Homo sapiens: one gene and its partners. The protein of the gene in region 7 purifies or fractionates together with the protein of the main gene of each other region. This does not show direct contact. Each region holds a gene or a part of one and is shown on either strand. Other genes may lie near its edges.

The links.
Region 1: the proteins of VASP (region 7) and RAB35 fractionate together in Homo sapiens (co-fractionation; one large-scale study listed by BioGRID). This does not show direct contact.
Region 2: the proteins of VASP (region 7) and PSMA5 fractionate together in Homo sapiens (co-fractionation; one large-scale study listed by BioGRID). This does not show direct contact.
Region 3: the proteins of VASP (region 7) and GTPBP1 purify together in Homo sapiens (affinity purification with mass spectrometry; 3 studies listed by BioGRID and IntAct, with this or other methods). This does not show direct contact.
Region 4: the proteins of VASP (region 7) and CTU1 purify together in Homo sapiens (affinity purification with mass spectrometry; 3 studies listed by BioGRID and IntAct, with this or other methods). This does not show direct contact.
Region 5: the proteins of VASP (region 7) and LRP4 purify together in Homo sapiens (affinity purification with mass spectrometry; 2 studies listed by BioGRID and IntAct, with this or other methods). This does not show direct contact.
Region 6: the proteins of VASP (region 7) and UTP4 purify together in Homo sapiens (affinity purification with mass spectrometry; 3 studies listed by BioGRID and IntAct, with this or other methods). This does not show direct contact.

Annotation. Positions count from the first base shown.
Region 1 is NC_000012.12:120,106,754-120,110,253, forward strand, and holds part of RAB35 (ras-related protein Rab-35), read right to left. Parts: intron 1,715-3,500; coding exon 1,664-1,714; intron 1-1,663. UniProt on the Homo sapiens protein: The small GTPases Rab are key regulators of intracellular membrane trafficking, from the formation of transport vesicles to their fusion with membranes.
Region 2 is NC_000001.11:109,416,449-109,419,948, forward strand, and holds part of PSMA5 (proteasome subunit alpha type-5), read right to left. Parts: intron 1-3,500. UniProt on the Homo sapiens protein: Component of the 20S core proteasome complex involved in the proteolytic degradation of most intracellular proteins. This complex plays numerous essential roles within the cell by associating with different regulatory particles.
Region 3 is NC_000022.11:38,712,444-38,715,943, reverse strand, and holds part of GTPBP1 (GTP-binding protein 1), read right to left. Parts: intron 38-3,500; coding exon 1-37. UniProt on the Homo sapiens protein: Promotes degradation of target mRNA species. Plays a role in the regulation of circadian mRNA stability. Binds GTP and has GTPase activity.
Region 4 is NC_000019.10:51,101,910-51,105,409, forward strand, and holds part of CTU1 (cytoplasmic tRNA 2-thiolation protein 1), read right to left. Parts: intron 2,682-3,500; 5' UTR 2,661-2,681; coding exon 2,153-2,660; intron 1-2,152.
Region 5 is NC_000011.10:46,908,551-46,912,050, forward strand, and holds part of LRP4 (low-density lipoprotein receptor-related protein 4 precursor), read right to left. Parts: intron 1-3,500. UniProt on the Homo sapiens protein: Mediates SOST-dependent inhibition of bone formation. Functions as a specific facilitator of SOST-mediated inhibition of Wnt signaling.
Region 6 is NC_000016.10:69,160,149-69,163,648, forward strand, and holds part of UTP4 (U3 small nucleolar RNA-associated protein 4 homolog), read left to right. Parts: intron 1-207; coding exon 208-314; intron 315-2,934; coding exon 2,935-3,030; intron 3,031-3,500. UniProt on the Homo sapiens protein: Ribosome biogenesis factor. Involved in nucleolar processing of pre-18S ribosomal RNA. Part of the small subunit (SSU) processome, first precursor of the small eukaryotic ribosomal subunit.
Region 7 is NC_000019.10:45,510,479-45,513,978, reverse strand, and holds part of VASP (vasodilator-stimulated phosphoprotein), read right to left. Parts: intron 1-3,500. UniProt on the Homo sapiens protein: Ena/VASP proteins are actin-associated proteins involved in a range of processes dependent on cytoskeleton remodeling and cell polarity such as axon guidance, lamellipodial and filopodial dynamics, platelet activation and cell migration.

The DNA of each region.
Region 1 (3,500 bases), on a different chromosome or scaffold from region 7:
CATTTTTTTATTTTTAGTAGAGACAGAGTTTCACCATATTGGCCAGGATGGTCTCAATCTCCTGACCTCATGATCCACGCGCCTCGGCCTCCCAAAGTGCTAGGATTACAGGCGTGAGCCACCGCGCCTGGCCAACGGAATCACTTTCTAAAGGCAGCCCAGCCATGTCAGAGGGAATTCTCCACAAGATAATCAGAGATGTCAACCCCACCCAAAGCATCTGTAATGAACCTGATTTTTTTTGTTGTTTTTTGAGATGGAGTCTCGCTCTGTCGTTCAGGCTGGAGTGCAGTGGTGCCATCTCAGCTCACTGCAACCTCCCTCTCCCGGATTCAAGCAACTCTCCTGCCTCAGCCTCCCCAGTCGCTAGGATTATAGGTATGCACCACCACGCCCAGCTAATTTTTGTATTTTTAGTAGAGACGGGGTTTCACCATGTTGGTCAGGCTGGTCTCGAACTCCTGACCTCATGATCCACCCGCCTCGGCCTCCCAAAGTGCTGGGATTACAGGTGTGAGCCACCGCACCCGGCTGAACCTGATGTATTTAACAAACAAAAATGTGTTCCATCTTACCAGTGATTAGGGAAATACAAATGTAAACAAGTTAGCCCTTTTTGCCTATCAGCTCAGCAAGAATGAAGACAGCTACTAAGATCCAGCACTGACCAGGGTTGACAAGGGGCACTTTCCACCCTTCAGTGGGACTGGATTAAATGACTCCAGCTTCTTTGAAAAGCAGGTTGGCAGTACCTATGAAAATTCTCAGTGCATACACCCTGTAAGCCAGTAACCCCACTTCTACAGAAACACGTGCACAAGAATAAGTATCAGCTGGGCGCAGTGGCTCACGCCTGTAATCCCAGCACTTTGGAAGGCCAAGGTGGGTGGATCACCTGAGGTCAGACGTTCGAGACCAGCCTGACCAACATGGTGAAACCCCATCTCTATTAAAAATATAAAAATTAGTCGGGCGTGGTGGCAGGTGCCTATAGTCCCAACTACTTGGGAGGTTGAGACAGGAGAATTGCTTGAACCCAGGAGGCAGAGGTTGCAGTGAGCCGAAATCGCGCCACTGCACTCCAGCCTGGGTGACAGAGCAAGACTCCATCTCAAAAAAAAAAAAAAAAAAAAAAAAAGAATAAATATCGCCTATATCCCAAGTAGCTAAGCATCGCTGAAAACACAACCAGAAGTCAGGCACGATGTAACAGCAGCGTCAGTGCACCATGTGGTGCCTTCAAGCACAGAAAGCCCACCGCACTCAGATGAACCACAAAGGCCTGCATGTGGAGCGCAGAAAGAAATCAGAAAGACACACGCTGACCACAGGCTGCCAGGGAGGCATAGGGGGCAGGAGCAGGGACTGTGTCCCGGGTGGCACCATAGACGCTGTTATGGGAACCTTCCTGTTTGGACCATGGGTGGGAAAATGATGGGCCAGCCAAAGGGTTTTCGTGAGCAGGTGCATTAGACAGACCACAGAGGCTTCTGACAGAAGCGCCACAAGGTCCTAAGCCCCACTCCATCTTCTTCCCTCCTCTGGCAACCAGAATGAGACAGTTCCCAACATCAGGCAGAGGCAACTCTGTTTGGTGCCAGGGAGGGGATGTCAACAAACAAACAAAAACGACACCCCAGCAGCACTGCAGGGGAGGACTCACCTGAGAAAGTGTTGTCTGCAAAACGCAACAGTAAACTGCTCTTGCCCACACCTGCAAGAGAGAAAGCACTGCGATGAGGGGGGCAGGTGGGTCCCCTCCCCGCAGCCCCAGCCCTTCTTCCGGGAGAGGATGCCTCAGTCCCAACTCTTAAGAAGCTCGGTGGGACCCAGCTCACTTCTCAATGCTCTTTCCACCTCCCTGAGCGGCCACACACCAAGAACATCTCTTCCACTCGATCCCTGACCTTTTCCTTCGTCCTTGTGTAAGACAAGCTGCTCCCAAATCCCCTGGGGGAGAGATGAGAAAGGGACTGGTGCCCAGGCCCTAGGCTGAGGGCTGGCCCAAAGGGAGATGCCAGACGACAAAGCAGAATGAAGGTCAACCACACGAAACGGCCCCCAAGTGCGTCTACAACATGGTCCCTAGAAAAGTGCACAGCACGTTGTAGCACATCAGTTAGGGAGCCGCCCAAAATGAAGAGCTGTAGAGCGGGAAAGGACCCTTGAGATCATCAGGGCTATTTTGCAGGTGAGGAAACCAAGGCCCACATAGCTAGAACTCAATGGCTACCATCTTTCTGGCTGATGTCCCCGCCGGGTGGGCTGGTGGAGTGGAGGGTCTGCCTTATACCCATCAGGGCAGCAGCCCACATGTGCTCAGACCATGCACCAGCCACAGCAGCTCCTGGCTGCTTAGAGCACAAACATGTACACATCTGGCCTCCCCCACTTTTTTTGTAAAGAAATGGGGTTTCAGGCCAGGCGCGGTGGCTCATGCCTGTAATCCCAGCACTTTGGGAGGCCGAGGCAGGCGGATCACCTGAGGTCGGGAGTTCAAGACCAGCCTGACCAATATGGAGAAACCCCGTCTCTACTAAAAATACAAAATTAGCTGGGCGTGGTGGCACATGCCTGTAATCCCAGCTACTCGGGAGACTGAGGCAGGAGAAGCACTTGAACCCGGGAGGCGGAGGTTGCAGTGAGCTGAGATCATGCCACTGCACTCCAGCCTGGGCAACAAGAGCGAAACTCTGTCTCAAAAAAAAAAAAATGGGGTTTCATTCAGTCACTCAGGCTGGAGTACAATGGTGCAATCATGTCTCACCACAGCCTCCAACTCCTAGGCTCAAGTGATCCTCTGACCTCAGCCTCCCGAGTAGCTGGGACCACATGTGCATACCATCATGCCCAGCTAATTTTTTTATTTTTAGTAGGGACAGAGTCTGGCTACGTTGCCCAGGCTTTTTTTTTTTTTTTTTTTAATCTTTTGTAGAGACGAGGTCTTGCTATGTTGCCCAAGTTGGTCTCAAACTTCTGGCCTCAAGCAACCCTCCCGCCTGGGCCTCCCAAAGCGCTGGGATTACAGGCATGAGCCACTGCGCCTGGACCTCTCCCCTTGACTTCAACTCACAGTGCTTTCAGCCTGCCAAGTACACCTGTTCCATGTCCTCCTATCCTGTCCCCAATCTCCAACACCCCTGAGGCCAGCCAAGTTAATTGACCACAAAGAATTCACATGCATCGGGCTGTGTGTGTGGTGAGCCCTTGGATGCCTCTTTGATTATAATTCTGGCCACATCTCTTGAGATGAGGAACCTCAGGCCCAGAGTGGCCGGCCTAAGTGCCTCTGTGAGCAGCAGTAAAGCTGAGATCTGCATCCAGGCCGGACTCCTCCAGAGTGCTAACACTCCTCCCAATACACATTGCTGGGAGTCTTGCGTCTGGTTCAGGAAGTTTGGAAAAAATGACCTGTGGGGGCTCCAACATCTCACTCCTGTTAGATTTTTAATGAAAATGCCACGAAAGCTATGAAACCCCCTGAAACAAAGTGCAGATTT
Region 2 (3,500 bases), on a different chromosome or scaffold from region 7:
TCCCCTGGAATACATTCTTCCTTCCCCCAATCCAAATTCCACTCATCAAAGCCTTCCATGACTATGCTTTCTGCTTTGAATTCCATTATATTTAGTTATTTCTACAAAGTAATCACTGCCAAGTGTGAGCACTGCAAAGAGTTCCAAAGAATCCCACGAATCTTTATGTATAACTTGCTTAACATGTCTGCAGACTGAATGATCATTTCACACGCATATATATTATTTTTCAAATGTGTTGAGTTGTGACTTTATTTAGAAGTGTTATTAAATGTACACCAGCTTTTTGTCATGTATTTTCTTAATCAGTGGATACCTGCATAACTACAGGAGATGAACTGTCAAAAAATTTTATGTAAAAAAATGAGTACTCAGGTTGGGCATGGTGGCTCATGCCTGTAATCCCAGCACTTTGGGAGGCTGAGGTGGGCAGATTGCATGAGTCCAGGAGTTCAAGACCAGCCTGGGCAACATGGTGAAACCCTGTTTCTATAAAAAATACAATAATTAGCCAGGCTTGGTGGCGTATGCCTGTACTCCCAGCTACGCGGAAGGCTGAAACGGTAGGACTGCTTGAGCCCGGGAGGCAGAGGTTGTAGTGAGCCAAGATCACGCCATTGCATTCCAGCCTGGACAACAGAGTGAGACCCCATCTCAAAAAATAAATAAATAAAAATGAATGCTCATATTTCTAGTTAAAGGTGCAGACTAAAGACATAACATTAGTTCCACGCCTTCCTTAAGTCTATTGATGTAAGATTAAAGGACTTCTAAAAAGGCATAAATCCACTATAACAGAGAGTGGGAGAAGACACAGCAACAAAACTTTGAAGCTAAAAAGAAGATAGGTTAGTGATACCTGGGTAATCCAAATCCTAAACCAGCCGTAAAGAAAGTAAAGAAACAACCTGATTTTTATCACAGGACCTCAAAAAAGGAAATGGTGGCAACAAGGACCTCTGGAAATGGAAATGAACAAGGAGCTAAAAATTGCAAGGTGGTTCAATGTTTAAGAAACAGATTCCCGGATCCCCTCCCCTATGCTGTAAAGCTAGACGACTGCACCTCCCCCACTCCCGTGGAAGACTCCAGGCTTATTCTCTGGAGACCGTAAAATAGAGCGTCTTTGGATTGGGGACACCAAGCACAGTCTAAGGCAGGAATAATGTACTGAAAACGGGATAAATATGTAAAAATTTCCAAACCAAATGTTAAGAACCTCAGCCTTCTTTCCCTACTCAGCTCTCAGAAGCCAGCAGCCAGAAATACCCTCCCGGAATGAAATGAGAAGAGGCAGTTTTCTCCTGAGCAATGTTTTTCAAACTTTTTGACCAAAAGCCACAGTAAGGAATACATTTGATTTCATAACTAAAACCCACAAATAAATATAAATACATAACAGAAACAAAATTTCAGGAAAAAAACCACTCATCACTACTATGGGCAAGGCATTTTGATATCTACTGCTCTGTTTCACTTAAAAAAGAAATGTGGGCCAGGAGTGGTGGCTCATGCCTATAATCACAACACTTTGGGAGGCTGAGGCAGGAAGATCACTTGAGCCCAGGAGTTTGAGACCAGCCTGGGCAACATGGCAAAACTTTACCTCCACAAAAAATAAAAAAAAATAACTGGGTGTGGTGGCATGTGCCTGTAGCTGGGGGCTGAGGTGGGAGGATCACTTGAGCCTGGGAGGTTGAGGCTGCAGTGAGCTGTGATCGTACCACTGCACTCCAGTCTAGGTGACAGAGTGACATTCTGTCTCAAAAGAAATGCTCCTCATGACCACTAAATTTATTTTATTATCTCCTAATAGGTCTAGACCTGCAGTTTGAAAAACATAGCTCTAAACAATCTGACCAGTTCAAAAGGAAAAAAAAATATTTTAGACAGGGTCTCACTCTGTTGCCCACGATGGAGTGCAGTGGCACAATCACGTCTCATGGAGCCCCAACCTCCCAGGCTCACGAGATCTTCCCACCTAAGCCTGCAAAATAGCTAAGACTACAGGTGTACACTACTACACTCAACTAATTTTTTAAATTTTTTGTGAAGACAAAGTCTCACTATGTTGCTCAGGCTGGTCTTGAACTTCTAGACTCAAGCAGTCCTCCTGCCTCAGCGTCCCAAAGTGCTAGGATTACAGGTGTGAGCCTTGCCCAGCCTAATTTTTTAAATTTTTTCTAGACACGGGCTATGTTGCCCAGGCTAGTCTTGAACTCCTAGGCTCAAGTGATTCTCCTCCCTCAGCCTCCCAAAGTACTGAGATTATAGGGATGAGCAACAATGTCCACAAGGAAAAAAATTTTCAAGAAAAATTAGAAAATTGTTGAAGAAAAACAAGACATTTCATCCATAAAACAAGAACGGGATGCTAATAAGAAGAAAAGAAACAAAAGAAGTTGAAAATTAAAAATTATTTCTGGCCAAACACGGTGGCTCATGCCTATAATCCCAGCAATTTGGGAGGGTGAGGCGGGCAGATCACCTGAGGTCAGGAGCTCAAGACTAGCCTGACCAACATGGACAAACCCCGTCTCTACTAAAAATGCAAAATTAGCCAGCGTGGTGGCGCATGCCTGTAATCCCAGCTACTCAGGAGGCTGAGGCAGGAGAATCGCTTGAACACGGGAGGCGGAGGTTGCAGTGAGCCGAGATCACGCCATTGCACTCCAGCCTGGGCAACAAGAGCAAAACTCCACCTCAAAATAAATAAATAAATAAATAGTTTCTACAATACTACTGGAAAATGGGTTCTACCAAATTGAGCAAATAAATCAAAAAAGATGACATGGGGCCTTACACAAGAGGGAGTTAAAGGGAATGCCTAGAATGATCTCACAGAAAATGAAGTCCACAGGTACACAGGAGGCCCAGAGAACAACCAGTCCAGACTGGAGCAGATTAGAAGGCTCCAAGATTTCATTAAGAATCCTTAATAGGGCACTGTGGCTCATACCTGTAATTCCAACACTTTGGGAGGCCTAGGTGGGCGGATCACTTGAGCTCAGGAGCTCGAGACCAGCCTGTGCAACACAGCGAAACCCCGTCTCTACAAAAAATACAAAAACTTAGGCCAGGCGCGGTGGCTCACATCTGTAATCCCAGCACTCTGGGAGGCAGAGGCAGGTGGATCACAGGGTCAGGAGTTCGAGACCAGCCTGACCGATATGGTGAAACACCATCTCTACTAAAAATACAAAAATTAGGTGTGGTGGCACGCGCCTGTAATCCCAGCTATTCAGGAGGCTGAGGCAGGAGAATTGCTTGAACCTGGGAGGCAGAGGTTGCAGTGGGCTGAGATAGCGCCACTGCACTCCAGCCTGGGTGAGAGAGTGAGACTCCGTCTCAAAAAAAAAAAAAAAAAAAAAAAAAACAAGCCGCGCATGGTTGTGCATAGCTGTAGTCCCGGCTACTTTGGGGGCTGAGGCGGGAGGATCACTTGAGCCTGGTAGGTTGAGGCTGCAGTGACCTGAGATGCGCCACTGCATTCTAGCCTG
Region 3 (3,500 bases), on a different chromosome or scaffold from region 7:
TCCATGTCAGCTTCACTCAGCCCATACTCAGTCCCATCTGGTGACAAGAGCCCAGACATCAGCAGGAGAGGGAGTCCTGACCAACCAGCCTGCCAACCAGCCAGCCAGGAACCCCACCTAACAAAGGCCACCACCCCCCGACCCCAGCACTGCAGAGGAACAGGGGTCCTCTCTACCTGAGAGAAAACCTGGGCACACACCAAGTTAAAACATGACAGTGCCACAGACCTCTCCATCAAGCAGAGCATTCGCTACTTCATTCAACAACAGCCACCGAGGCTCTCCCAGGTTTTATGCCAAGCCTCATGCTGGGTACTAGGACTACAGGTGCCCCTAGTGAGCTCACAGCCCAGTGGGGGAGGCAGACAGGAAATTAATTAATTGCAATACAGCTCAAGTGCTGCACTCTAGGACTGTGTGAAGAGAACATAAAGCACTGCCTGGGGAAGCCGAGGACAGTTCTGCAAAGGGCTGATGCCAAGCTAGGTCAACAAGTGCTGGGCCTGCAGAAGGAGGAAGGACATCCTAGCCAGAGGAACAAAGCGTGGCGTGGCAGATCATGGCAAGTTCAGGGACCAGGAAGCAGCTCAGTGTGTTGAGGAGCAGCATGGGTGACATGGAGTGTCGGGAGACTACATGAGAGGTGGAAGCAGCACAACAGACGGACAGCAGCGACACACCTTCTGCACCAGGCATTGAGACACCCGTAGGCTGAGGCAGGGGAGTAACATGATCAGATGGCTGTGGGTTAGAAAGATCTCCTGAGTAGCAGTGCCAAGTGTGCACCAGCAAGTGAGAGACCAGTAAGGGGGGAGTCCAGTTAGGAAGTAATTCTAATAATGCAGGCAAGAGATAATGACGACAGAAAGATGGAGGAAAATGGGGGAGGAACTCAGAAACATTTTAGAGATAAGATTTTTAACTGAGGTGGCTCAGGTGACATGTCCAGCAAGCAGCTGGAGAAATGAGTTTGAGCTCAGGACAAGGAAGGGAATCAGACAGAAGGCAGGACCAACCGACCAAACAGTTACTGAGCTCCTACTATATGACAACCCGTCAGCTGCTTTCCATGAGGTGCTGGATTTAATTTCCACAATCACTCCCTCAGCCTTTCCCAGCTGTCCTGTCTCTGAGAGCACCCCTGCTCCTTCCCTGGCTGGCTAACCCCTTCAGCATGTGTGACTCTCTTCCCCCGCACCAAATATTCTCCTTGTCTCTTCTTCTCTTCCTCCCACTCCAAACAAGCTCCTAAACTAAGGAAAGGAAAACCACCCCCCTTCCCTTGCCCCTGCTTATCTGCAAAGCTACCATCTCCTGTTTTTCCTTTCACCATCAAACATCTCGAGAGTCATCAACGCGTGTTGACTGTACTATCCCACCATCTACTCAATGGGAATCTGCCCACTACAGAAGAAACCGCAGTTGTCACATGCCACCAGTGGCCTTTTTTTTTTTTTTTTTTTTTGAGATGGAGTCTCACTCTGTCACCCAGGCTGGAGTGCAGTGGCACAATCCTTGCTCACAGCAACCTCTGCCTCCCAGGTTCAAGCGATTCTCCTGCCTCAGCCTCCCAGGTAGCTGGGATTACAGGCGCCCGCCATCATGCCTGGCTAAGTTTTGTATTTTCAGTAGAGACGGGGTTTCACCATGCTGGCCAGGCTGGTCTCGAACTCCTGACCTCAAGTGATCTGCCCGCCTTGGCCTCCCACCAAAGTGCTGGGATTACAGGCGTCAGCCATCATGCCTGGCCCACCAGTGGCCTTCTAAACTCTCTAATGCCCTCTTCTTGACTCCTACAGCATTCGATACTGCTGGCCACTCAGCCTTTCCCTCTTGAAGCACTTCCCTCCCACCCTGCTCACGCATCACCTGACCTCTCCTGATGTGCCTCCCCACCCCGTCCCCCGCTCTTGTCTCCTGAATGCCAGTTTTTTCCAGTAGTCTGTCAGTGGCCCTGTTCTGTTTCCTCCAAACTTTCCCCTTGGCCATCTTGTTCTATGGCTTTGGCTGTCATTTTGAAAACTATAAAAACACTCATTTCTAACACCATCCTATGCCCAGAACTCCAGACTGAATTTCCAATTGCCTGGATAACTCCTAGAAGTCTGATATCCAAACTCAACACCCAACCCAACCCTCTTTTAAACAACAGCACAGACACTAACAATGTTAATAAAGCATTTTATTTCTCACTGTAATCTTATGAGGTAGGCATTACTGTTCCCTTTTAACAGTGGGGTAAAAAGAACCTAGGGAGATCTCAGAGCTTGGGGGAGGCCATGAGTTCAGGTCTTCAGATTCCAAAACCAGAGCCTTTTCCTCTTACTGCCTGACCAGTTCCTTCTTTATTTCTGACAATGACAATACCATCTCTCTAGCCACCAGTCTCCTCAGTCCAGTCCTGATGATTCTAGCATTTTACCTTGCCTCCTTCCCTGATGTCTGCCCTTTTTGCCAATCCGCAGCCACCAGCCTGATTCAGGCTGTTATTCTACCTGAACCACCACAACAGACTCTTAACTTTTGTCTTTACAAATTCAGTCTCTATTCCCTCCAACCAACCCCTTAAGGTCCTAAATAAAGCACAACTCTGACGCCGTCACTTCAAGTCAAAGCTTATGAATGGCTCCCCAGGCCCAACTGCTTAACAGCCTCCCCATTTGTGCCGTACTCCCTCCTCACTTTCTTCTTGTAAGCTCTGTCATGGTGCAAGTGGCCCCATCACACACACAGCACTCCCCTTCCTTGTGCTGGGGTTCTCTGCAGGGTCCTAGCTCTACACCTTTGCTCATGGATTTCCTATCCTGAAAGCCCAACAGCGCACCTCCTCCTAGCAAAATCCTACTCATTCTGCCCACAAATGTCTGTGTCTCCCTTACATTTGCAATGTACTGCCTTGTGCAACAGTGTTTTGGATACACATCCTCCCCTCCCCGCACAATACATAAGCATCTTGAAAACAAGGAACATACCGCAACAATTTCCTGATGCCCCACAACCAGTGCCTTTCCTCAAATGTTTGTAAAATGTAAAACAAATGAACAAAGAGGGAGCGGTTGGGCTGAGGAGTTTCTAAATGCACGGCAAAGTGAGCTGTGAAAGCCTTCAGGGTTAGAGAAGGGTTTGCTGGGAGTGTTCCTAAGAAGGCTGGCTAAATTCTATTCAACCTCCCCTGCTCCTGTTCTTTCAGGTCCTGTTCCACACCAAGGGCTATCACCAACGTCACCTTGTCCATCAGGGCTCTCGGTCAGTCACATTACCCGTCTCCAGCATGCATCACATTCCTCACTCTGTGGAAGCCGAGACAAAGGTGGAGGAGAAAAGCTGCAGAGGTCCAATTACTAAAGGCCACATACTCAGCCATGCCAGACGCTAATCAGATTTCCATCCTGCCGGCTCATTCACTTTTCTTATATGTATTCTCCTCTTCTACAGGCTGCAAAGACTCCCTAGACTCTCAGAATAAAAGTCTAACCTCTTTGGCATGGCATTTAAGGACC
Region 4 (3,500 bases), 5.6 Mb from region 7:
GTCAGGGATTTTTCTGGAAGGCTTCATTACTTTTGGAAGTACAATTAATAAGTGATTCTATCAAATTAACTTTAAAATCCGAGGCAGCCTCTCATTCTTTTTTTTTCTCCCCCAGCTGGAATCTTGCTCTGTCACCCAGGCTGGAGTGCAGTGGCGTGATCTCGACTCACTGCAACCTCCGCCTCCCGGGTTCAAGCAATTCTCCTGCCTCAGCCTCCCGTGTAGCTGGGATTACAGCCGCCCACCACCACACTCAGCTAATTTTTGTATTCTTAGTAGAGACGGGGTTTCACCATGTTGGCCAGGCTGGCCTCGAACGTTTGACCTTGTGATTCCGCCTGCCTCAGCCTCCCAAAGTGCTGGGATTACAGGTGTGAGCCACTGTGCCCGGCCGAAGCCTTTCATTCTTTCCATACACTGTCTGCTCTTGTATGGTAAGGATTATTCTTCCCATTTTCAATCACAGAGATCTAGGGATTTCTCCAAAGTTACTCAGTAAGGAAAGGGCCACATCAGTGAATGAAGCTCAGTAAGCCTTCCCCAGAGCCAGTGGCCCTACCTAGCATGGTGGCACATGACAGCCTCAGAACTACTTTTGCCTTCATATGCTTTCAGTGTGCTGATTCTCTCCAACCATCATCTCTCACCTCCATCACCGCAGCTGGCTTCCCACTGACTGGTCTCCTCGGCTTTGTCCCTGTCCCTCCAACCCAGGTTCCTCGCCATGGCCTGGGTGAGCTTTTCAAAGTGAAACTCTCTTCATGTCACTTTTACTGGTTCCGCCACAGCCTACAGGGTAAGGCCTGACCTCTTCCACCTCTCCAGCCTCCCCTGCCCTTGCTTTCTGGGTTCCAGCCACACTGGACTTCTTGGGGCAGCCCAAATTGGCTTTTCACAGGCCAATAACCTCTCCCTAATTCTTACCCGCTTTACCTCTTCACTGTGAGCCTTCAGATTTCAAAACCGTTCCTTGACCCCACTCCCTCCACGTCATAGGGTTCTCTGTGTGTACACATAGTCCATAACATGTCCATACATGGTCAATAACATGTATAATGTTTATAATTTTGTACCTGATAACCATGCAAAGGTAGGAACTTGTGCGTAACTGTATTCTCAGCCCTAGCCTGACAATGATGATGATAATAGCATGTATAAAATGTGTAATCTATATTATATCATACGGGTTATGTAACATAACTATAATATAGATAACGTTATACTTCTACTGACTCATCTAATTGTCATAACAAGTTTATGAGCTGGGTACCATTCATAGTCCTGTTTTAGGGATGGGGTGAAACAGAAGTACAGAGTGGTTAAGAACTTTGGTATGGCCACAGTTGGGATCCGGCATATAGCAGAAACTTAGCATCTGTTTGTTGAAGGAATGGATGAAAAAGACAGAATAAAAAAGTTATCTTCCAGCACTTTGGGAGGCCGAGGTGGGTGGATCACGAGGTCAGGAGATCGAGATCATCCTGGCTAACATGGTGAAACCCCGTCTCTACTAAAAATACAAAAAATTAGCTGGGCGTGGTGGCAGGCACCTGTAGCCCCGGCTACTCGGGAGGCTGAGCCAGGAGAATGGCGTGAATCCGGGAGGCAGAGGTTGCAGTAAGCCGAGATCGCACCACTGCACTCCAGCCTGGGAGACAGAGCGAGACTCTGTCTCAAAAAAAAAAAAAAAAAAAAAGTTATCAAAGAGGAGAGGCCAACCAAGAAAAGGAATTAAGAGATGGAGATGCTTTTTAGAGAAAGAGCTGGATTCTGAAAGGTGGACCATAAGAGATCAAGCATGTTAGAAACATTTAAAAATAAGTAAAGGACCAGAGATCTCCAGAGATTTTCACCTCCCACCCCTTTGGCAATCTGTGGAGACCAAGACGGTGGCCAAGACCCAAAAACCTTTGTGATCACTGCCTGGCCCCTCTGTCTCCCCAGCGTCTTGAACCTTTAAAGGGCCCCAGCCCCAAACTGCAGCATGCGCCCTTCCGCACCTCCGTACAGGGATCCTCCCATTAAGCCACCAGGGTCTCCTCGCCGCCTTCTGGAGCATGCGCCTGAATCCCCTTTCAGGTCCCGCCTCCTCGCCTGTGCATTCGCCCCACTGCCTCGGAGAGTGCCGCTCTGCGGCCCGTACTACGCTCACCTGTCACGATGTGCGTGGCTCCCACGCGGCGCGCCCCTTCCTCCAGCGCCCGGCGCCGCAGCACTCCACAGAAGGTGCAGCAGGAGCGGCTGCGGCCGGAGCCGGCTGTGCTGCGGGCCACGGCGTCCATCGTCCAGCCCCCAAAGAGGTCTTCGTAGGCCACGACCGTGAGCGGCAGCTCCCAGCGCGCCGCCTGGCGCCGCACGGCCGCCAACGCCGCGTCCCGGTAGCCACCGATGCCCTCATCGACGGCCACGAGCTGCAGTGAGATGCCCAGGCGCGGCGCCAGCGCGCGCAGCACGTGCGCCAGCACCGTGGAGTCCTTGCCGCCCGAGGCGCCCACGGCCACCACCGCGCCGGGCGGCAGCAGGCGGCCGGCGAGCACCGTGTGCAGCACCTCGGCCTCGAAGGCGGCGCAGAAGCAGGCACCGCACAGCGCTTGGCCCGAGAGCGGACGGCGGAGGGCGGCGCGTGCAGCATGGCAGGAGGCGCACGGCGGGGCGGGCATTGCGGGAGGGGTCGGCTTCTCCTAGACAGGGAGAGAGAGGAGGTGGGTTACATATGGATTCCGGATTGCAGGGTCCCTGCCATCGGGGAGATTGTCTGGATTGCACCTCTGCCCGGAATAGACCAGGGAGACGTGTGCGCGAGTGGAGTAGCTTCTTCTAGCGCTGGGGATAGGATGGTTATAAATAGGTCCGGTGTAAGGAAGCCACTGCCTTAGGGAAGGCTTCTTGGATTGCACCCATTATGCAAGAAGAAGAGAAGTAGCTTAAGAAGCTGGCTTCATGGGTAAAGAGAGGGAGCGACAAGCAGGTTATACCCAGGATTAGGTTGTGTCCTCTCCAGAGGGATGGGGGTGTATATTAAGGCCCATTTGTCACAACCTCCAGGGAGGCCACCCTTGTTACAGTCCTGATCAGGACAAGGTAGGTATCATTGGCCTGGGCCACCAGGGCTGTTAAAAGCCCTTGGGAGGTGAGGGGTTTTTGACTCTAAGGGCAGAGGGAGGCCAGGGGACTGAAGCTCTGTGCAGCGGGAGGTGGAAAACAGGAAAGGCCAACTGATTGCACTTTGTAGGGTGGGATACGGTCTCCAGGAATGGGTTCTGATTGCATCCTATGAAAGGCAGGGTGATCACCTTCTCCAGGGAACACAGGCAGCCTGGATCACACCTCTCAGGAGACCAGCTGGGGTTGCACACATTTTGAGGGTGAGAAAATGGGTGGGCCTCCAAGATTGAACTCAACCCTGCTCTGGTATCAGAATGCCCCACAAGCTTCTGTGCTCTCACCAAGACATGGATCGGCCCATCTTTGACCTTCATCTGTTATCTTTCCTACTTCAT
Region 5 (3,500 bases), on a different chromosome or scaffold from region 7:
TGGTATTACTGTTGTGAGAATCTCCAAAACCCCAAGGTCAAAAGGGGGAATTTACAACTTCTGGGTCCCTCTCTTTTATGTGTTCTCCAATAGCAAATATGCAGTGAGTTTATGGGTCTCAAACAGTGACCTCTTTCTGGTTACTGCTAAGGTAAAGAAAGATTCATTTCCCTCGCCGGAAGGTAAAGTAATGAAGTGGGGAAAGTCTGGCGTCCCAGCACTTTTGAATCAGCACTCGAGTGTTGTTGGTCCAGGGAACAGGGCTTCCCATAACAAATAATTATACTTTGCAATTTCTCTTTAGTTTGTGAGCTACTTTTGCATATGCACTTGCATTCTCATTGAATCATTACAATAATCCTGAGCAATGACTGCAGGGCCCATCCAACAGGTAAGGGCACCCGCTTTGGCCAAGGTCACAAGGTAAGTAGGAGAGCCAGGATGGCAGCCCCATTCTGACACTTAAACTAGTATTCTTCTCTTAGTGTGATCTCAGAGTCTGGACTTTCAGTAAGCTTTCCGGGTGACACCGATGCACACTCAAGTGTCTAGCGGCACTGCTCTCCACCATTCCATAGAATGCACAGCTGAAGGTGGACCACATCTGTCACATGGAGGCACATGGGTAGACCGTGACTACTCACAGCTACAGACCAGCTTTTTCAAGCTGAACCAGAGATGAGAAGGCTTAAGGAGTACCCTGTGAGTGTTCTGGAGTCTGGTGGCTACCCCAGTGTGGAAGCTATTAGGATTACAATGAGAAAAGGAGGAATCGGCCGGGCGCGGTGGCTCACGCCTGTAATCCCAGCACTTTGGGAGGCCGAGGCGGGTGGATCATGAGGTCAGGAGATCGAGACCATCCTGGCTAACAAGGTGAAACCCCGTCTCTACTAAAAATACAAAAAGTAGCCGGGCGCGGTAGCGGGCGCCTGTAGTCCCAGCTACTCGGGAGGCTGAGGCAGGAGAATGGCGTGAACCCGGGAAGCGGAGCTTGCAGTGAGCCGAGATTGCGCCACTGCAGTCCGCAGTCCGGCCTGGGCGACAGAGCGAGACTCCGTCTCAAAAAAAAAAAAAAAAAAAAAAAAAAAAAGGAGGAATCACCATTCGTTTATAATATGCTAAAGCATATTAGCATATGCCTCTCTCCTTTTATCCACTGGCAGCAATAAATACAAGTTCGTTGAATGAATGAATGAATGAATGAAACACTCCTCTAGAATCTTGTGAAAGCTGGAGTCAAAGGAAAAGAGACTCAGAATATCATAAATAAAAGTAGTTATTTCCTACCTAACCAGTGCTGGAGAGAACAGGAATCTTCTCGTTTGCAAGGCAGCCTCTTTGTCCTACCCAGGTTTTGTTTACTCCTTTCTCCTACAAGAGTTCCTTTCACCAGCTGTATTATCCGGCTGTGAAACTGACACGCCATGTTTCTACTTATTTCTGTCCCATGGTCCCTTTTATTCCCGATTCCTAGAGGCCAGCTTAACTTGGTTGGTTTGGAAAATCTACCAGGTGAAGTCTTCTCCTCAGTGGCCCGTTTCGAAAGGGACATGTCGGGCACATGATTGCGGGTCCAAGCAAGTTCAGCCCTCTCTTGCTACTGTTACATACAGAAAAGAAGTCCTTAATGGTTAGCCTCCAAAGTTATGAGGCAGAAGAACATAATGTTAAGCACGGAGGAACAAAACTCCCCAGGATAAAAATCCTGACTCTGCTAAGTTCCTAGCTGTCTGACCCTGGGCAGCTATTTAACCTCTTTATATATAATTTTCTCATCAGGAAAATTGGGATAATAAAATCCCCTAACTTACAGGAATGTTATGAGAAATAAATTAGTTAATTCATAAGAAGGACTTAGCATTACTGCCTGGCACATACTAAGTGCTCAATAAATAATAGCTCTTGTTATTACTATTAAAGATTTGGCTTACCCCAGAACTGTCACATCCAACCACTCCATGATTAAGACCTGCTATTTTAGGACTTGAGATGTTTGAAAACCCTACTGTGTACCAGGCAGCAGTACCACCACCATGGGTTAAGTTGGTGGCATGAATAACTGCAGAGTCTTGCTTTATTGCCTTTCTCTGAAAGAGCTTGAGGCACATGGTATCCTTTATCCTTGCCCCCTTTTTTTTTTTGAGGTGGAGTCTTGTTCTGTCACCCACACTGCAGTGCACTGGCACAATCTCAGCTTACTGCAACTTCCATCTCCCGGGTTCAAGCGATTCTCCTGCCTCAGCCTCCCAGGTAGCTGAGACTACAGGTGTGTACCGCCACACCCGGCTAATTTTTGTATTTTTAGAGTAGAGACAGGGTTTCTCCACATTGACCAGGCTGGTCTCAAACTCCTGGCCTCAAGTGATCCACCTGTCTCGGCCTCCCAAAGCACTGGGATTACAGGCACGAGCCACCACACCCAGCAAATCTTTGCCTAATTTATCACCAACTAATTCTGAGGAGCCAAGGACAGGAGAGAGAATCCAGAAACTAAAGTACAGAGCAATTAAGAAATGGATTAGCTTCCACTTTTGTAAATCAGGAGTAATAACAGTATCTATTTCATAGGGTTGCTGGGAGGTCTAAATGAAATAATACGTATGAGGTTCATACTAGACAGCTGTTATTGTTTTTCTTGTTATTTGTACTAATCCCATTATCTTCATCTGGATATGTCCTCTCTCTCAACCTAGTAATGTAGCCAATGCCAGGCTATCTTTGTATAGATCCTCAAAATTCTACCTGCCCTACCTGGAAGCTGTCAACAGATTTCACAAATCCAACAGGGCTCAAACATGGCTGTGCTCTGTGAAGGGCTGCTCAAAATATTGCTTTCCCTTCCCCCTACATCTCAAATCAGAAGGTCCACACAGTAACAAACCACATTTGTTTATGGCTGTTCAGGGAGCAACAAACCACATTTTTCTGGAAACCTTTTAAAGTCTCTCTCTTCTCCTGAGCCCATGAGTTCGAGGCTACAGTGAGCTATGATCATGCCACTGCACTCCAGCCTTGGCAATAGAGTGAGAACCTGTCTCAAAAAAAAAAAATAAATAAATAAATAAAAATAAAGTCTCTCTCCCTCAAGAAGCACCTGAGAAGTAATTCCTTATGCATTCAGACTCCCTGAGAAGATGTCTGAAAACAGAGGAGAGGTCAATCCAAGATGAAATATAGACCTTCCCAACCTAGATCTTCTGGGATAGCCTGGAATCCTGGCTCAGTTACTCACTATTTGTATGACAGGAAACTGCTCTGAGCCTGTTTCCCATCTGTAAGATGGGAATCTTCTTTTTTTTTTTTTTTTTTTGAGACGGAGTCTCGCTCTGTCGCTCAGCCTGGAGTGCAGTGGCACAGTCTTGGCTCGCTGCAACCTCTGCCTCCCAGGTTCAAGCGATTCTCCCACCTCAGCCTCAGCCTCAGCCTCCTGAGTAGCTGAGACTATAGGCATGTGCCACCACGTCAGCTAATTTTTGTATTTTTAGTAGACATGGGGTTTC
Region 6 (3,500 bases), on a different chromosome or scaffold from region 7:
ACCTTCTTTACAGGCGGGATGGTTAAATAAGTAGATGAAAAAAGTAGAAACATTAACATCTAGAAGTAATTTGCACAGTGATCAGCAAATTATCCTGGCAGTGATTTAAAACTCTAATGGTCTCCTTGGCTTTTGCCATCATCTCCAGGGCAGGTCTGGCTGTGGACACTGTGTGAATTCAGAGATGTAACTGTTTTGTCCTCACAGGAACAGTGGAGGCCATGTGTCTTTTGGCAGTCAGTCCAGATGGGAATTGGCTAGCTGCATCAGGTACCAGTGCTGGAGTCCATGTCTACAACGTAAAACAGCTAAAGGTGAGCATAGGGTTTCATGGCAGCAGTTTGAATCATTGTACAGGAGCCAGTTCACCCTGCAGTTACAAGATTCAAGGCAGATTGGCATGACCTGGAAATTTATTAGACTTTTTTCTTTTTATTTTCTTTTCTTTTCTTTTTTTTTTTTTTTTGAGACAAAGTCTTACTCTGTCACCCAGGCTAGAGTGCAGTGGCGCGATCTCGGCTCACTGCAACCTCAGCCTCCCGGGTTCAAATGATTCTCCTGTCTCAGCCTCCTGAGTAGCTGGGATTACAGGTGTGTGCCTCCACACCTGGCTAATTTTTGTATTTTAATAGAGACAGGGTTTCACCGTGTTGCTCAGGCTGACCTTGAACTCCTGAGCTCAGGCAATCCGCCCACCTCGGCCTCCCAAAGTGCTAGGATTACAGGCATGAGCCACCGCGCCTGGCCAGACTTTTTTCTTTTTAACTAATAATTTTTCCAGGTTTGGAATCCTGTTTTATTTTTATGGAACCCGGAAGCTATACTGTGTAACATTAAAAGCAGCTAATGGAAACAGTGAAACCCATTCATACCTGGAAATTTGAAATTAATGATCTGTGGGTGATGTAAACACATCCAGGTTCTTTCTGTATTTTCGGGAGGAAAATTCTGATATACACAGACAAATAGTTGCAGATAATAAGAGTTCCTTTCATGGCTTGCCTTGTAATCTCAAGGTAAACATAATCAAAACTTCGAAAAAGGAATACTGGGAAAACATTTTTCACTAATCAGTAATGACGCTGTCAGTCATAAATTGAGTCATTAGTGATCCCTTACAAGTCCTCATCTTCATTATAAGAATCAGATTCGAACTACCCAAAACTTGGAATAAGCATTAAAAGTGTATAGAATAACATCAAACTGCAACACTTAATGGGTTTACCTGTTAACTGCATAGTGTAACCTTTGTTGCATTATGGTAGGAGCATGTACTGAGCACTTGTCTTTGAGCCTTGCCTGGCATTTAAAGAGTGTTTGTGTGTAGCGTGCACATGCTTTGCAATTGTACATAAAAATCCATGCCTAGGCATTTATTTATTTTAAACCTGGTGTAGAGCTGTAGACTCCCTATTCAATGACACATTTATAAGCAGTTTGTACAGATGGATTTACTCAGAGGGAAAGGCTTTACTCTCAGTTCTCCACAAACGCTGTTAGTTTTGTACGCGGTTAAATAAGCTTTTTATTTTTTTGAGACAGGGTTTCACTCTGTCACCCAGACTGAGTGCAGTGGCACAGTCACAGCTCACTGCAGCCTTGACCTCTCTGCTCAAGCGATCCTTCCACCTCAGTGTCCTGAGTAGCTGGGACTACAGGCGAGTCCCACCACACCTAGCTAATCTTTTTTTTTAGTAGAGATGAGGTTTTGCTGTGTTGCCCAGGCTGGTCTTGAACTCCTGGACTCAAGCGTTCCTCCCGCCCTGGCCCTTCCGAAGTGCTGTAGTTACAGGTGTGAGCCACTGCGCCCAGCCAATAGGCCTTTTGTTTTTTTTTTGAGATTGAGTCTTGCACTGTTGCCCAGGCTGGAGTGTGGTGGCGCAGTCTCTGCTCACTGCAACCTCCGCCTCCTAGGTTCAAGTGATTCTCCTGCCTCACCCTCCTGAGTAGCTGGGATTACAGGTGCACGCCACCACACCCAGCTAATTTTTTTAATTTTTGGTAGAGATGGGGTTTCACCATGTTGGCCAGGCTGGTCTCAAACTCCTGACCTCGTGATCCGCCTGCCTTGGCCTCCCAAAGTGCTGGGATTATAGGCATGAGCCACTGCGCCCGGCCAACCAATAGGTATTTTTTTAAGAAAATGAGGACTGGTGCGGTGGCTTACGCCTGTAATCCCAGCACTTTGGGAGGCCGAGGTGGGTGGATCATGAGGTCAGAAGTTCAAAACCAGCCCGGCCAACATAGTGAGACCCCGTTTCTACTAAAAATACAAAAATTAAGCCAGGTGCAGTGGTTCACGCCTATAATCCCAACACTTTGGGAGACCAAGGTGGGTGGATCACCTGAGGTCAGGAGTTTGAGACCAGCCTGGCCAACATGGTGAAACCCCGTCTCTACTAAAAATACAAAAATTAGCCAGGCATGGTGGTGGGTGCCTGTAATCCCAGCTGCTCGGGAGGCTGAGGCAGGAGAATCACTTGAAACCGGAAGGTGGAGGTTGCAGTGAGTCAAGATCATGCCATTGCACTCCAGCCTGGGAGAAAGAGTGAAACTCCATCTCAAAAAAAAAAAAAAAGAAAAACAAAAAATTAGCCGGGTGTGGTGGTAGGCGCCTGTAATCCCAGCTACTTGGGAGGCTGAGGCAGGAGAATCACTTGAACCTGGGAGGCAGAGGTTGCAGTGAGCTGATTATCACGCCACTGCACTCCAGCCTGGGTGACAAGAGCGAAACTCCATCTCAAAAAAAAAAAAAAGAGAAGAAAAAGAAATGAAAGTTCATTGGTTGGGGAAATGCCTGAAATTTTTGGAACTTCCCTAGAACCCTTTTGAATTATGAGGAGCAGTATTTAAACCCCTGACCTAGACCATTCAATCTTTGCTGAGGAAAAGTGTCACTTAGAGTTGCCACTTGTGTCTGTTATTTGTTCCCAGCTTCACTGCACGGTGCCTGCTTACAATTTCCCAGTGACTGCTATGGCTATTGCCCCCAATACCAACAACCTTGTCATCGCTCATTCGGACCAGCAGGTAAGGGAGATTCCAGTGCTTTCTATTCCCTTCCTGCTGGATAGTAACCTAGAAGCTGGAATATTGGGCAGTTGCGGGGAGCTTTTTTTTGAAGGTGTTGGAGGATATAAGGTAGTTTTCTCCTGTGTGAAGTAAAGCTTCCTTGCCGGTCTGGGCTCATCATAGGCCAGCAGTATGCATTGGTTTGATGGGATGCAATTTAAATGGAGAAGCACTAAGATTCTAGAGTAAAGAATCACAAGAGGGAGGAGGAATTTTGAAGTACTCATTTTCCTGATTGTTTTAGAGGAGAGATGACATGGGCTTGGGTATTAAACTGGATATGGGATGGAATAAGATTTTGAGAGTTGAAAGTGACTAAAAGATTGTATCATTCACCTTTACGCTTGCCGATGAGGAAATCAAGCCCTAATAAGATCAGGTACCTAATCTCAGCCAAAATTAGAACCTAATCTACTTTTTTCTATACC
Region 7 (3,500 bases):
AGGCAGAAATTTGTGTCCCAGTTGTTCACTGCTGTGTCCCCAGAACCTAGAATGGCGTCCAACACATAGTAGGGACTCAATAGTTACGAAACATCTGTAAAAAAAGGCAAACTTTGGCCAGGGGAGGTGGCTCACGCCTGTAATCCCAGCACTTTGGGAGGCTGAGGCAGGAGGATCACTTGAGCCCAAGAGTTTGAGATTGGCTTGGGAAGGCTGGGTGTGGTGGCTTATGCCTGTAATCCCAGAACTTTGGGAGGCCAAAGCAGGTGGATCTCTTGAGGTCAAGAGTTCGACACCAGCCTGGCCAACATGGTGAAACCCTATGCCTACTAAAAATACAAAAATTAGCCAGGCATGGTGGCTCATGCCTGTAATCCCAGCTACCCAGGAGGCTGAGGCAGGGGAATCACTGAACCCAGGAGGCAGTTGCAGTGAGCCGATCTCAGACCACTGCACTCCAGTCTGGGAGACAGAGCGAGACTCTGTCTCAAAAAAAAAAAAAAAAAAAAAGGAGAGAGACTAGCTTGGGCAAGATGGTGACCTCCGTCTGTACAAAAAACTTTAAAATTAGCTGGGTGTGGTGGCGCTTGCCTGTAGTCCCAGCTACTCAGGAGGGTGAGGCAGGAGGATCACTTGAGTCCAAGAGGATGAGGCTGCAGTGAGCCTTGTTCAGGTCACTTGCACTCCAGCCTGGGCAACAGAGCAAGACTCCCTCACAGAGCAAGACTCCCTCACAAAAAAAGGCAAACTTTTACCTAGGACACCTAACATTTCTCAGTCAGCCTGGGTCCCAGACACTCTTCTTGGTGCTTGACACCAATTTCCCTGCTGCATGACTCTACAACCTCATGGGATAGGCTCTGACGCTCACCCTTTTGACAAGGGGGAATTGCAGGCACAGAGGAGTGAAGGCACTTGCCCCAGATCACACAGCAAGTAAGCAGAGGGGCTCATAGTTGAAACGAAGTTCCCACAAGTTCTTAACTTCATTTAAAGATGAAGAAGCAGAGCTAAATTGAAATTTTTAAAAGCCAAAGTACAAGGTAGTGTTGATCAGAGGCTTTACAAAACCAAAAAAAAGGTCGGGTGCGGTGGCTCATGCCTGTAATCCCAGCACTTTGGGAGGCCAAGGCAGGCGGATCACAAGGTCAGGAGTTTGAGACCAGTCTGGGCAACATAGCGAAACCCCGTCTCTACTAAAAATACAAAAAATTAGCCAGGCGTGGTGGCGGGCGCCTGTAATCCCAGCTACTTGGGAGGCTGAGGCAGGAGAATCACGTGAACCCAGGAGGCGGAGGTTGCAGTGAGCCAAGATCACGCCACTGCACCCCAGCCTGGGGGACAGAGCAAGACTCCGTCTCAAAAACAAAAACAAACAAACAAAAAAGGTAGGCTAGGCGCAGTGGCTCAAGCCTGTAATCCCAGCACTTTGGGAGGCCGAAGCAGGCGGACCTCTTGATGTCAGGAGTTTGAGACCAGCCTGACCAACATGGTGAAACCCTGTCTCTACTAAAAATAGAAAAATTTGCTGGGCGTGGTGGCGCGTGCCTGTAATTCCAGCTACTCAGGAGGTGAGGCAGGAGAATTGCTTGAACCTGGGAGGTGGAGGTTGCAGTGAGCTGAGATCGCGCCACTGCACTCCAGCCTGGGCGACAGAGCAAGACTCCATCTCAAAAAAAAAAACAGTGAGGAGCATATATAAATATATCTGCACTCAGAGTGGTGATATATGCAGAGACTGTTTCCCAAGACACTAACTGTGGCTGCCTCCATTGAGGGGAACTCAGGAACTGGGGAGGGAAGAAACAAATATTTTGTACCATTTATCTTTTGAGACAGAGTCTCTCACTCTGCACCCAGGCTGGCAGTGGTGTAATCTCAGCTTACTGCAGCCTCCACCTCCCAGGTTCAAGCAATTCTCCTGCCTCAGCCTCCCAGCCTCCACTTCCCGAGTTCAAGCGATTCTCCTGCCTCAGCCTTCTGAGTGTCCGGGATTACAAACGTGTGCCACCACGCCAGGCTAATGTTTCTATTTTCAGTAGAGATGGGGTTTGGGCGTTTGCCACATTGGCCAGGCTGGCCTCAAACTCCTGACCTCAGGTGATCTGCCTGCCTCGACCTCCCAAAGTGCTGGGATTACAGGCATAAGCCACCAGGCCCAGCCACCATTTCAATAATTTCAGTAAGTATTTCAAACTGCTTATTATTTGTTTTCTTATCATGGGTTGAAATTACCTATAAAAACCTAACTCACTACTTAAGTTCAATAAATAAAACTGTAAACTACACAAAAGCCAGAACGAAAATCCCATAGCCATAAAACGGGGGTGCGGGGGCTGTGAGATGGAAAGGAGTTCTGCCCATTTCCAGTGTGTTTTCCCGAAGTCTAGAACCCTCCATTGGACATGAGAACACTTTAATTTTCCAGCCAGCCCAGGACCCACTCCTCCCTGCAAGTCCCCACATTTTGGAAAACTCTAGCACATGGCGGATGAAAAGACGGTTCAAGTTGCCTCCTTGTTGTGTGGCTTTGCCTCTCTGAAACTCAGTTTCCAGCCCTGGAAACAATAACTCACTGGGTTCATTGTAAGGATTAAAAGAGATAATGGACAAAAAGCCCTAAACGCAGGAACTGTAACTTGGTACACGCTCCACATGAAGGAGAGAGCTTCCCATCACCAGAGGTAATCAAGCATGGTGAATCCGGTTTTCACAAAACTTGCAGTCTTACCCTTCCCTTCACTGTCCCCTGAACCCAAGACTTAGCCCATACCCTCCTTATACCATAAAACCTATGATACATATACACCACCCTTCCAAACGACAAATCTTCTTTTGTCGGGGATGGGGCTACTCTAGTCCCTTCCTCCTGGTGGGCCTCAGTTTCCCATAAGTGAATAGGAAGATAAATGTTGCAGCTTCGGTTTCATTTGGCTTATCTGAATTATCTTAAGAGTTTTCACAGTGAAAGCACGTTCCTTTTTTTTTTTCTTTTTCTTCATTAAGAACACGGAAAGCATGTTATCTCTATTTTTTTTTTTTTTTTGAGACAGGGTCTCACTTTGTCACCCAGGCTGGAGTGCAGTGGCAAGAATATGACTCATTGCGGCCTCAACCTCCCCAGCTCAAACGATCCTCTCGCCTCAGCCTCCAGAGTAGCTGGAACTACAGGCGCATGCCACCACACCCAGCTAATTTTTGTATATTTTGTAGAGACGGGGTTACACCATATTGCCCAGGCTGTTCTCAAACTCCTGGGCTCAAGCGATCCTTCTGCCTTGGCCTCCCAAAGTGTTAGGATTACAGGCATGAGCCCCGGCGCCTGGCCCTGTTTGAGTTTAATAGGCACCTTGCCTAACTTTCCTGTGCCTCAGTTTCCCCATCTATAAACTGAGTACCGGGGTGGGGAGGCCACAAGGTTGTAATAGTATCATTGTTCGAACTGCCATGAGGGGCCAGGTGTGGTGGCTGACGTCTGTAATAATAACACTTTAGGAGGT